2 linked regions of the Homo sapiens genome follow. The protein of the gene in region 2 purifies or fractionates together with the protein of the main gene of each other region. This does not show direct contact. Each region holds a gene or a part of one and is shown on either strand. Other genes may lie near its edges.

Evidence for each region.
Region 1: the proteins of FCHO1 (region 2) and SRR purify together in Homo sapiens (affinity purification with mass spectrometry; one large-scale study listed by BioGRID and IntAct). This does not show direct contact.

The regions. Positions count from the first base shown.
Region 1 is NC_000017.11:2,301,725-2,307,017, reverse strand, and holds the start of SRR (serine racemase), read right to left. Parts: upstream 3,069-5,293; 5' UTR 3,001-3,068; intron 542-3,000; exon of another isoform or gene 1-541. Other genes in the region: SMG6 (telomerase-binding protein EST1A), read left to right, coding at 3,298-3,385. UniProt on the Homo sapiens protein: Catalyzes the synthesis of D-serine from L-serine. D-serine is a key coagonist with glutamate at NMDA receptors. Has dehydratase activity towards both L-serine and D-serine.
Region 2 is NC_000019.10:17,774,723-17,779,234, reverse strand, and holds part of FCHO1 (F-BAR domain only protein 1), read right to left. Parts: intron 4,180-4,512; coding exon 4,155-4,179; intron 3,780-4,154; coding exon 3,722-3,779; intron 3,253-3,721; coding exon 3,074-3,252; intron 2,989-3,073; coding exon 2,964-2,988; intron 2,601-2,963; coding exon 2,549-2,600; intron 1,099-2,548; coding exon 1,007-1,098; intron 627-1,006; coding exon 351-626; intron 1-350. UniProt on the Homo sapiens protein: Functions in an early step of clathrin-mediated endocytosis. Has both a membrane binding/bending activity and the ability to recruit proteins essential to the formation of functional clathrin-coated pits.

The DNA of each region.
Region 1 (5,293 bases), on a different chromosome or scaffold from region 2:
TGGTTCCACAACTCTTCCATCCACCTTGTGTGGCCTTGCATTCGTGGCTGCATCCACCTCCTCCTCAGTGGCATATGTGGCAAATCCAAAGCCCCTGGAGTGCTTGGTGTTTGGATCTCTCATTACCACACAGTCCGCGAGTGTTCCCCATTGCTCAGAATGGCTCCTCAGGCTCTCATTGGTTGTTTCAAAGCTCAGCCCTCCAATGAAGAGCTTCTTCAGCTGTACGAGCTCTTTAGGAGACTCTGACTTAGACTTGGCGGTGTCCATGGGTGGAAAGTGTTTGTTTTGTTTTATTTTTGAGACAGAGTCTCTATCTGTCACCCAGGCTGGAGTGCAGTGGCGTGATCTCGGCTCACTGCAGCCTCTACCTCCTTGGTTCAAGTGATTCTCCTGCCTCAGTCTCCCAAGTAGCTGGGATTACAGGCACCCACCACCACGCCCGGCTAGTTTTTGTATTTTTAGTAGAGACGGGGTTTCGCCATGTTGGCCAGGCTGGTCTCGAACTCCTGACCTCAAGTGATCTGCCCACCTTGGCCTCCCAAAGTGCTGGGATTACAGGCATGAGCCACGGGGCCTGGCCTAAAATTGTTGTTTTTAAAAAAATTCCAAATGGTTAGAATGTTTTGCTTCATTTGTGGCTATTCACTTCTAGTTTTATTACTTTGTGCTAAGTAAATATGACCTGTACAATTTTTTTTTTTGACGGAGTCTCACTCTGTCGCCCAGGCTGGAGTGCAGTGGAGCAATCTCGGCTCGCTGCAACCTCTGCCTCCCAGGTTCAAGCAGTTCTCCTGCCTGAGCGTCCCAAGTAGCTGGGACTACAGGTGCCCGCCACCACACCCAGCTAATTTTTTTGTATTTTAGTAGAGATGGGGTTTCATCTTGCCCAAGCTGGTTGGGAACTCCTGAGCTCAGGCAATCTGCCCACCTCGGCCTCCCAAAGTGCTGGGATTACAGGCGTGAGCCACCGCGCCCGGCCAACTTGTACAATTTTTACTTTTAGAAACTGAATTCAAGGCTGGGCGCGGTGGCTCACGCCTGTAATCCCAGCACTTTAGGAGGTTGAGGCGGGTGGATCACCTGAGGTCAGGAGTTCGAGACCAGACTGGTCAACATGGTGAAACCCCATCTCTACTAAAAATACAAAAAATTAGCTGGGCATGGTGGTGGGCGCCTGTAATACCAGCTACTCAGGAGGCTGAGGCAAGAGAATTGCTTGAAACCAGGAGGCAGGTTGCAGTGAGCCAAGATTGTGCCACTGCACTCCAGCCTGGGCAACAAGAGTGAAACTCCGTCTCAAAAAAAACGAAAAACAAAAAATCTCAGCAGCTTTCATTGTGATACTGACTTAAATATGGTTGTCTTTCTTGTCATTTCTTTTTACCTGGTATTTCATGAATTCTTTAAATCTGATAATTCAAAAATTTCCACCAACGTAGTAAATTTTCTTCTACTATTTGATTATTGCTCTTCTGCAGTCAGCTGTATTATCCCCTTCTGGAACTCGTATTTAATTATTAATTTTTTGTACCCCTTCTCCATGTCTCCTATCTTTGTCTCTCAGTTTTTATCTATTACCTTTTCCTTCTGAGTTCTGGTAAATTTTCTTGAACTGGTTTAACTTTTGGCATATCTAATCTGCAGTTCACTGACACTGTTGCATTAAATGGGTGGTGCCATTTGTCCTAAGAAAGTTTTCTTGTTTTCCATTATTTTTCCAGCTGAAAAAAGAAATCATGCAATGGCCTCTCAAATTTCAATATGAAACAGATTATTTTTTAACGCTTCTTCCTATTTCTCTCAAATCTGGTGGCAAAGGCTGTCTTCTGCTCTGACCACTCAAATGGTTCCTCTTCTGAACTGTTGGATCTTTTCACCCATCATCTACTGACTTTCTTCTTATGCTTAACCTTCCGGTGACAAAGTGTCACGTAAAAGGAACTGAAGGAGTTCTGTCAGAGGTTGTGGCAATCCCTTCGGCTCAGACTAAGGAATAATTGGTAACTATTCTGTGATGGGTGTGGGGTAAAAGCCTATGGGGCTGTGGAGGGGCAACAGGTGGAGGCAGGAGGCCTTGGGGAAGGGAGCTTCACCTCTGTACAGTTCTCCAAAAAAAGATTCAAGTACCAGCCTTCTGGTATAGTTCAATTTTAAAGATGGGAAATTAAAAAGTCAACCTGAGATCCACAGCAGTAATTTTTTTCAAGAATCCATAGTGACACAGAAATTCCCAAATTGACTTTTTTTTTTTTTTGAGGCGGAGTCTCGCTCTGTTGGAGACTCCCGGGCTGGAGTGCAGTGGCGCGATCTCGGCTCACTGCAGTCTCCGCCTCCCGGGTTCAAGCGATCCGCCCGTCTCAGCGTTCCGAGTCGCCGGGATTACAGGTCCCAAATGGACTTATATGCCTCCTGATGTACTTCCTTCCACACGATTCCAACTATATCGTATCTAGTTTTTAAAAGTCAGGGGGCGGCCGGGCGCGGTGGCTCACGCCTGTAATCCCAGCACTTTGGGAGGCCGACGCGGGTGGATCACCTGAGGTCAGGAGTTCGAGACCAGCCTAGTGAAACCCCGTCTCTACAAAAAATACAAAAATTAGCCGGGCTTGGTGGCGTGCACCTGTAATCCCAGCTACTAGGGAGGCTGAGGCAGGAGAATCGCTTGAATCCAGGAGGCAGAGGTTGCAGTGAGCCGAGACCGCGCCACTGCACTCCAGCCCGGGAGTCTCCAACAGAGCGAGACTCCAACTAAAAAAAAAAGGGAATAGTAACAACTACTCTTAGCAGATCTTCAAGGTCCCAAGTAATGGCCCGCGGCGCTAGGCCGGGCCTGTGGCGGGAGAGCCTGGCCTAAGGTGTCCAGAGGAGCCCAGGCTGAGGGGTGTCTCTGTCAACCCGAGTCCCAGACTAGCAGTGTCCTTGGTGTCCACGACAACAGCAACGGCAGCCACCGCCGCAAACGCCCGCCTGGCCTGGCACGGCCCGGCCTCGCCTCACCTCAGCTCACCGGCGCCGCGCCTCCAGCTCCAGCCTCCGCGCGCCTCCCCGGCCGCACCTCTGCGCACGCGCAGCGCCCGCCCGCCCCACCCAGGCTCTCGCTCCGGTCCCGCCCCTCTGGAACCGGCGGCGGGCGCTTTTCCTCCCAGCGCGGCCACCGTCGTTCGGAAAGGGAGGGCGGCAGGGGGCGGGGAAAGGCCGGGAGGTGGGCGAGCGCGCGCGCCGCCCGTCTGTGGTGGTTTCCTGGCTGCGCGCGGCGGTGGCGGAGCCGCTACGGCTGTAGCAGCAGCCGCGAAGATGGCGGAAGGGCTGGAGCGTGTGCGGATCTCCGCGTCGGAGCTGCGCGGGATCCTGGCTACTCTGGCCCCGCAGGCCGGGAGCAGAGGTGAGTCGCGCCGCCCAGCTCCTGGGCCGGGCCTGCCCGCCCCGCCTCCCTCTCCTCCTCCTCTGCCTCCTCCCCGCTCGGCCCTCGGCTCCGGAGCCCCCGCCCCTTCCCCCAGCAGTAGGCGCTGGGGCCGCGGCGGACCCTCGCTGCCCTACCTCTCTCGCGGGTTAGTGCGGGGTCGGGCTCGGCCAGTCCTGGCCAGCTCCGGGAGAGCCTGGCCCGAATTCCTGCCTCCACCCTCTTTCTCGCCGCGAAGGTGACTGTTCCTTTTGCCCCAGCCCTCTCAGACCCGCCCCGGATTCCCAGGCATCGGGAGACGCGGAAAGGAGTGGGGTCTGGTGGAGGCCCCGGGCGTATCGCTCTCCAGGCCGCCCTCCGCGGGCCTGCCCCGGCCACCGCTTTAACGTCGGAGAGAAGGAATTGGGGAGAAAGGTTTAAGAGCCTGCGACTTCGTTGCTGAACTTTTCCCCCCCAAGACAGGCTTCCGAAAGCTGCGCCACTGGAGGGATCCGGGACCTCAGACTACTCGGGTTTGGCCCTGGCATGTGTGGGAGCAGTTTTTATTAGAGAGAATGCTCAATTTGCAAGTTAATTTCAAGTCTCCAGCCACGTCAGGAAAGTAAGAAAGATTCTAAGTGTCTCACCTCTCCTGCGTTAGGCAATAGAGTTGTGTAGAATGGTAGCTGTGATAGGTGCCTTCTCTAGGTTTGCGGCCAGTCTGTGAAATTGGTTTTTGTTGATTAACATAATTGGATTATTAAGGCTATTTTCTCCCGCTGCTCTAGAAAGTAGTAGGAATAGCTTTCCCCATCCCCCCGCCCCCCACCAAGTTACAGACTGCCGAGGGTGAGCTATTCTTGGGTTAAACTGCTTTATCTTTGTGGATACTTCATGAACCTACCTTTTAAACTTATGAAAATAGTGAAGCACTATCCAAAACCTCAGTCTCTTTTCTTCCCCTTTTCCTTACACCTACAAACAGTAAATGTACTTGCTGGAGCATATGATTCCTGTTTTGGGCTTGTTTCCATTTATATTTAGAGAGCAATACTAGGATTAAAAACTTTTTTATTGTTGTTATTATTATTTTTTGAGACGGAGTCTAGCTCTGTCGCCCAGGCTGGAGTGCAGTGGCGCGATCTCTGCTCACTGCAACCTCCGCCTCCCGGGTTCACGCCATTCTCCTACCTCAGCCTCCCCAGTAGCTTGGACTGTAGGCGTGTGCCACCACGCCTGGCTAATTTTTTGTATTTTTGTAGTGACGGGGTTTCTCCGTGTTGGCCAGGATGGTCTGGACTCCTGTCCTCGTGATCCGCCCGCCTTGGCCTCCCAAAGTGCTGGGATTACAGGCGTGAGCCACCGTGCCCGGCCAATTTTTTTGAGGCAGGGTCTCACTCTGTCTTCCAGGCTGGAGTGCAGTGGAGGGATCTCAGCTCACTGTAGCCTCCCCCTCCTGTGCTCAAGTGATCCTCCCACCTCAGCCTTCCGAGTAGCTGGAATTACAGACCTGCACCACCACACCTGGCTATTTTTTGTATACGTTATAGAGACAGGGTGTTGCCATGTTGCCCAGGCTGATCTCGAACTCCTGGCCTCAAGCAGTCCTCCCGCCTCAGCCTCCCAAAGTGCTGGGATTATAGGCGTGAGCTACTGCACCTGGCCTATGCTAGGATTTTATATAGCATTCCATTTGTGTACTTGATAATATTCTCCCGAATTCTGTCACTTTTCCATTGTAATGTTTAGTGGTTACTTTTGATAACGGTAACAGATACTTTTTTAAAAAACCAGATACTTAAGTAAGTATCTGTCCGCTGGGCTGGAGTGCACTGGCGCGATCTCCGCGTACTGCAAGCTCCGCCTCCTGGGTTCACGCTATTCTCCTGCCTCAGCTTCCCGAGTAGCTGG
Region 2 (4,512 bases):
ACCTCCTTGCTGTTCTTCAGACAGGCCTAGCGCGCTCCTGCCCCAGGACCTTTGCAGGGGCTGTGCCCTCTGCCCAGCACGCCTTTCCCCTCATGTCCACGTGGTTCTGTCCTCACCTCCCTCAAATCTCAGCTCAGATGTCCCTTCCTCAGGGAGGGCCCCCACCTGGCACCCGCTACCGCCTGCCTTGCTAAATGTCCATCTCATTGTTGTCCCTGCAACGGTGGGAGGTTCTGCCTGCCTGGTCCTGGCTGTGTCTCCAGCAGCCTGATCAGGCCCTGCCCAAAGCAGGCGCTCAATCCCCCGCCCAGGGTTCCAGCAACTCTCAGGCCCAGGCCCGCTGGACTCACCTCCTCCGGCCAAGGCCTCCAGCCCCCAGGGGCCTGGAGACGAGGCGAGGGGCTGCGGCGAGTCTGGCAGAGGCGGTGCCCGGATACCCCTGGCCTCTGGGGGTGGCGCCCTACAGCTGGGCGGGCTCTGCGGGGTGCCTGGGCGGGGGACCCAGGAATCTGGGGAGGGGCCAGGTGCCGCGTGGGACGGAGAGTCCAGGCCGGAATCCTCCACGTTTTCGGGCGACGAGGAGGAGAAAGGGGAGGGGCTGGAGGTGAAGCCCAGGCTGCTAGAGCCTTGGGGAGGGAAGCGGGCGGTCAGCTCCGACCCTCGCCCACTCAGAGTCCCTGCCCATCCTCCTGCAGGCCACGGCCACGTCGAGGGAAGGTCAGGGGGGCCCCCATTCAAAGTCCTTGTGCACGCCCCCAAGGCTACACCTTCTGGTGACTTCCCTCTCCACAAATGTCCGGCCCATCCACTCAGTCACCGCCCACTGGCCAAGGCCCCACCCTATCTATGGCCCCTCCCACGCGCACTCTGGCCCCGCCCACCCCTACACGGACTAGTCCTCCCTCCAGCCTGGCTTCCAGGGGACCTCATTGGCCTAACTCTGCAATGGCCCCACCCAACCTCCCTCCGGCCACACCCATGCCCTCCAATCCCTTATCCCCATCACCTGTAAAATCTTCGTGGTCAAAGGCTGACTCCAGGGGCGGCCCAAAGAGGTTCTTGGACACCTGCTCCTCTGACTGCAATCTCTCTGCACAGCTAGAGAGGGTGAGGCCAAGAGGGCTGCTTCTATTTTTCCCAAGCCTCATCCCACCCTGGGGCCTTTGCACATGCTGTTCCCAGTCTTTTTTTTTTTTGAGACGGAGTCTTGCTCTGTCGGCCAGGCTGCAGTGCAGTGGCACGATCTCAGCTTGCTGCAACCTCCGCTTCCTGCGTTCAAGCGATTCTCCTGCCTCAGCCTCCAGAGTAGCTGGGATTACAGGCACCTGCCACCATGCCCGGCTAATTTTTGTATTTTTAGCAGAGACGGGGTTTTACCATGCTGGCCAGCCTGATCCCAAACTCCTGACCTCAAGTGATCTGGCTGCTTTGGCCAGTGCTGGGATTGCAGGTGTGAGCCACTGTGTGCAGCCTGTTCCCAGTCTGGAGTTCCATTTCCCCAGCTCTCTTCACAGTCACCTCCTAGCTCCTCTTTGGGGCTTAGCTCCAAGTCACCCCCTCAGGGAGGTTCCCAACCCCACCTCAAGGGAAGTCACCTCCTCCTGTCTTCGCGTCATCTGCTTTAGTTTCTTCGTAGCACTTAGAAGTATCGAATATGCTCTAACTTATTTGCTTTTTTTTTTTTTTTTTTTTTTTTTTTGAGACGGAGTTTCCTCTTGCTGCCCAGGCTGGAATGCAATGGCACAACAGTGGCTTACTGCAAGCTCCGCCTCCCAGGTTCAAGCGATTCTCCTGCCTCACCCTCTCGAATAGCTGGGATTACAGGCATGTGCCACCATGCCTGGCTAATGCTGTATTTTTAGTAGAGATGGGGTTTCTTTATGTTGGTCAGGCTGGTCTCGAACTCTCGACCTCAGGTGATCCGCCTGCCTTGGCCTCCCAAAGTGCTGGAATTACAGGCGTGAGCCGCCACGCCTGGCCCTATTTGCTATTCTTAAAATCTGGAGTCACTAGAATGTGACTCTGAGAAGGGAGACCTGTCTCAGAACCCAGACCCTAGAACAGCACAGGTACACAGCAGGCACTCAATAAATGTTCATCAAATGAATGACTAAATGGTCCCTCAAAAGCCAGCATGGGCCAGGCACAAGGGCTCATGCCTGTAATCCCAGCACTTTGGCAAGCCGAGGTGGGCAGATCACTTGAGGTCAGGAGTTCGAGACCAGCCGGGCCAACATGGTGAAACCCTGTCTCTACTAAAAATACAAAAGTTAGCTGGGCGTGGTGGTGGGTGCCTGTAATCTCAGCTACTTAGGAGGCTGAGGCATGAAAATCGCTTGAACTCAGGAGGTGGAGGTTGCAGTGAGCTGAAATCGCACTCCAGCCTGGGTGACAGAGTGAGACTCTGTCTCAAAACAAAAACAAAAACAAAAAAACCCCAGCATGACGTCAACTCCCAGCCGGGACAAGAGAACACCAGGCGGAGACATGGGGAGGTGGAGGGAGGAGGTGGGGACAGCCCCCACCTGCCCACTCGTGTGGAACCCACCTGCTGGTTCTGGGGGCAGACCGAGGTCTCTGGGGTTTCCCAGCAGCGTCCCCTACAAGAGATGCACCTCCTTCAGCCTTCTTGTCACCCTGCCTGCAATGCTCCCCACTCCACAGACCAAGGGACCGAGGCTCGGGGGTGTCCAGCCAGTTGCCCAAGGTGATCAGCAAATCAGGCAGACATGGATTCAAGCCTAAGCGAGCCTGTCTCCAGATGCTAGCTTCTCCTGGCCCCAGCTACCCCTTTCAGCTCTCACTTAATTTCATAATGACCTCATTTTACAGAAAAGGAGACTGAAGGTCAGTGTGGTTAAGCAGCCTGCCCAAAGTTACAAAACGGAGTTATGATTCAAGCCCAAACCCATAGCCTCCCTTCCTTAGGATCCTCCCCACTCTGAAGACCAAAGGCTACTCACGTGAAGAATGGCGTTTCATGGTGCCCTGTGGACAAAGTGGGCAACATCACACACGAATGCATCCAGCCAGCCTCTCTAGCAACACCCAGGGCACCCCTCCCACGCCTCACCCCTGGGCCAGGAGGAAGGATGAGGCTGCCCGCGGTGGCCCTGAGCTGTGCCGCTGCTGCCTCGGGGCTGCAGGCTGGAGCCCGGGCCGGGGCAGGCTTGATGTGCACATAGAACTTGCGGGGCTCTTCATCGTCGAAGTCGGAGTCGCTGGACGAGAAACGGGAGGGCTCGGCCGTGCGTGGGCTGCAGTCAAGGTCCAAGCCAATCCCAACACAAGCTTTCCCCCAGTCAGCTCTCCAATCCAGCCTCGTCCCTCCCTGCTCAAACCCTTCGAGGTCCTGCCCAATCCCATCGCTCACCACGCGCCACCTTCAGTCCTGACACCATGTCCCACCAGCACTCCCACCCCCCCCGAGAAGCCTTTGCACAAGCATGCCCAGAACTAACTGGCAAACTCCTATTCGGCTGCAAAACCCCAACACTGGTGCCCCCTCCTCCAGGAAGCCCTGCTAGATCTCCTTTTCTCTCTCCCTCTTGCCCAGTGCTGACCCCATAGAGTGGGTGTTTACATTTAGGTTGGCTTCATCCACAAAGGAGACTCTCTCCAGGATGTACACAGAGAGGACTGCTGAAGGTGGACTGGTTATTACGGAGAATTTTGTCCTTGCTGTGCCAACAACTGCCCCCAGGGGGTGCCAGAAGGATATTGTTCTGGGTCACATCAGGCCGGACAGTGAAACCTTCTTCATCCACCTCTGGACATGTCTAGGGGAGTCAGGGGGCAGCAGTGAGTCAGGCGCCCCACTATCGAACCTTCCATCTCACCCTGCCAACCGCCCCCCGCCCTGCCCCCAGGCCTTGACTCAGACCTCAAAACCAACCCTGATGGCAACGACTGTCTTCCCTGGGTGTGTGGGCAGGTTCCTGGGACAAACTGAGCTTCGGCAGGGACATTATTCACACCCACGTAGTCCATGGGACTTTGCAGCTGAGGTGGGATATGAACCCAGCCCCCAGGCTCCAGCCCGCCCCTCAATCTCGGCTCTTTAGTTTCCAGTAGGGATCGGGACTCTAGGAGCCAAGAGTGGGATCAAACTCCTTCCACTTGTAGCCCAGCCTGACCCCTCCCACATCACTCACCCCTGAATCGGGCTCCAGGAAATCTCTGGGGATGGAGGAAGAGATGTTGGTGTCAGCTTCCGCAGCCCATCTGGTGCCCCCTGTCAGCCCCCAACACTGGACATGGAAGCTGGGGCAGCTCCCAGACTGTGATACTGCCCTGAGCTAGCCCTAGAGGCGGTGGGACCATGGGGCTTGCTTGGGGAGGGGGTTGAATCTGAAGTTAGCTGAGTAGAGAGTGTTCTCAAACAGCCTGGGAGGGAAGGAATCCTGGAACTCATTTGAAGGGCTGCCTTGTGAAGATAGGGAAAGTCGGGGCTAGCCTTGGCAAACAGAACAATCCTGGGCCAGCTTGGGCAGGGAAGATGCTACGTTACTC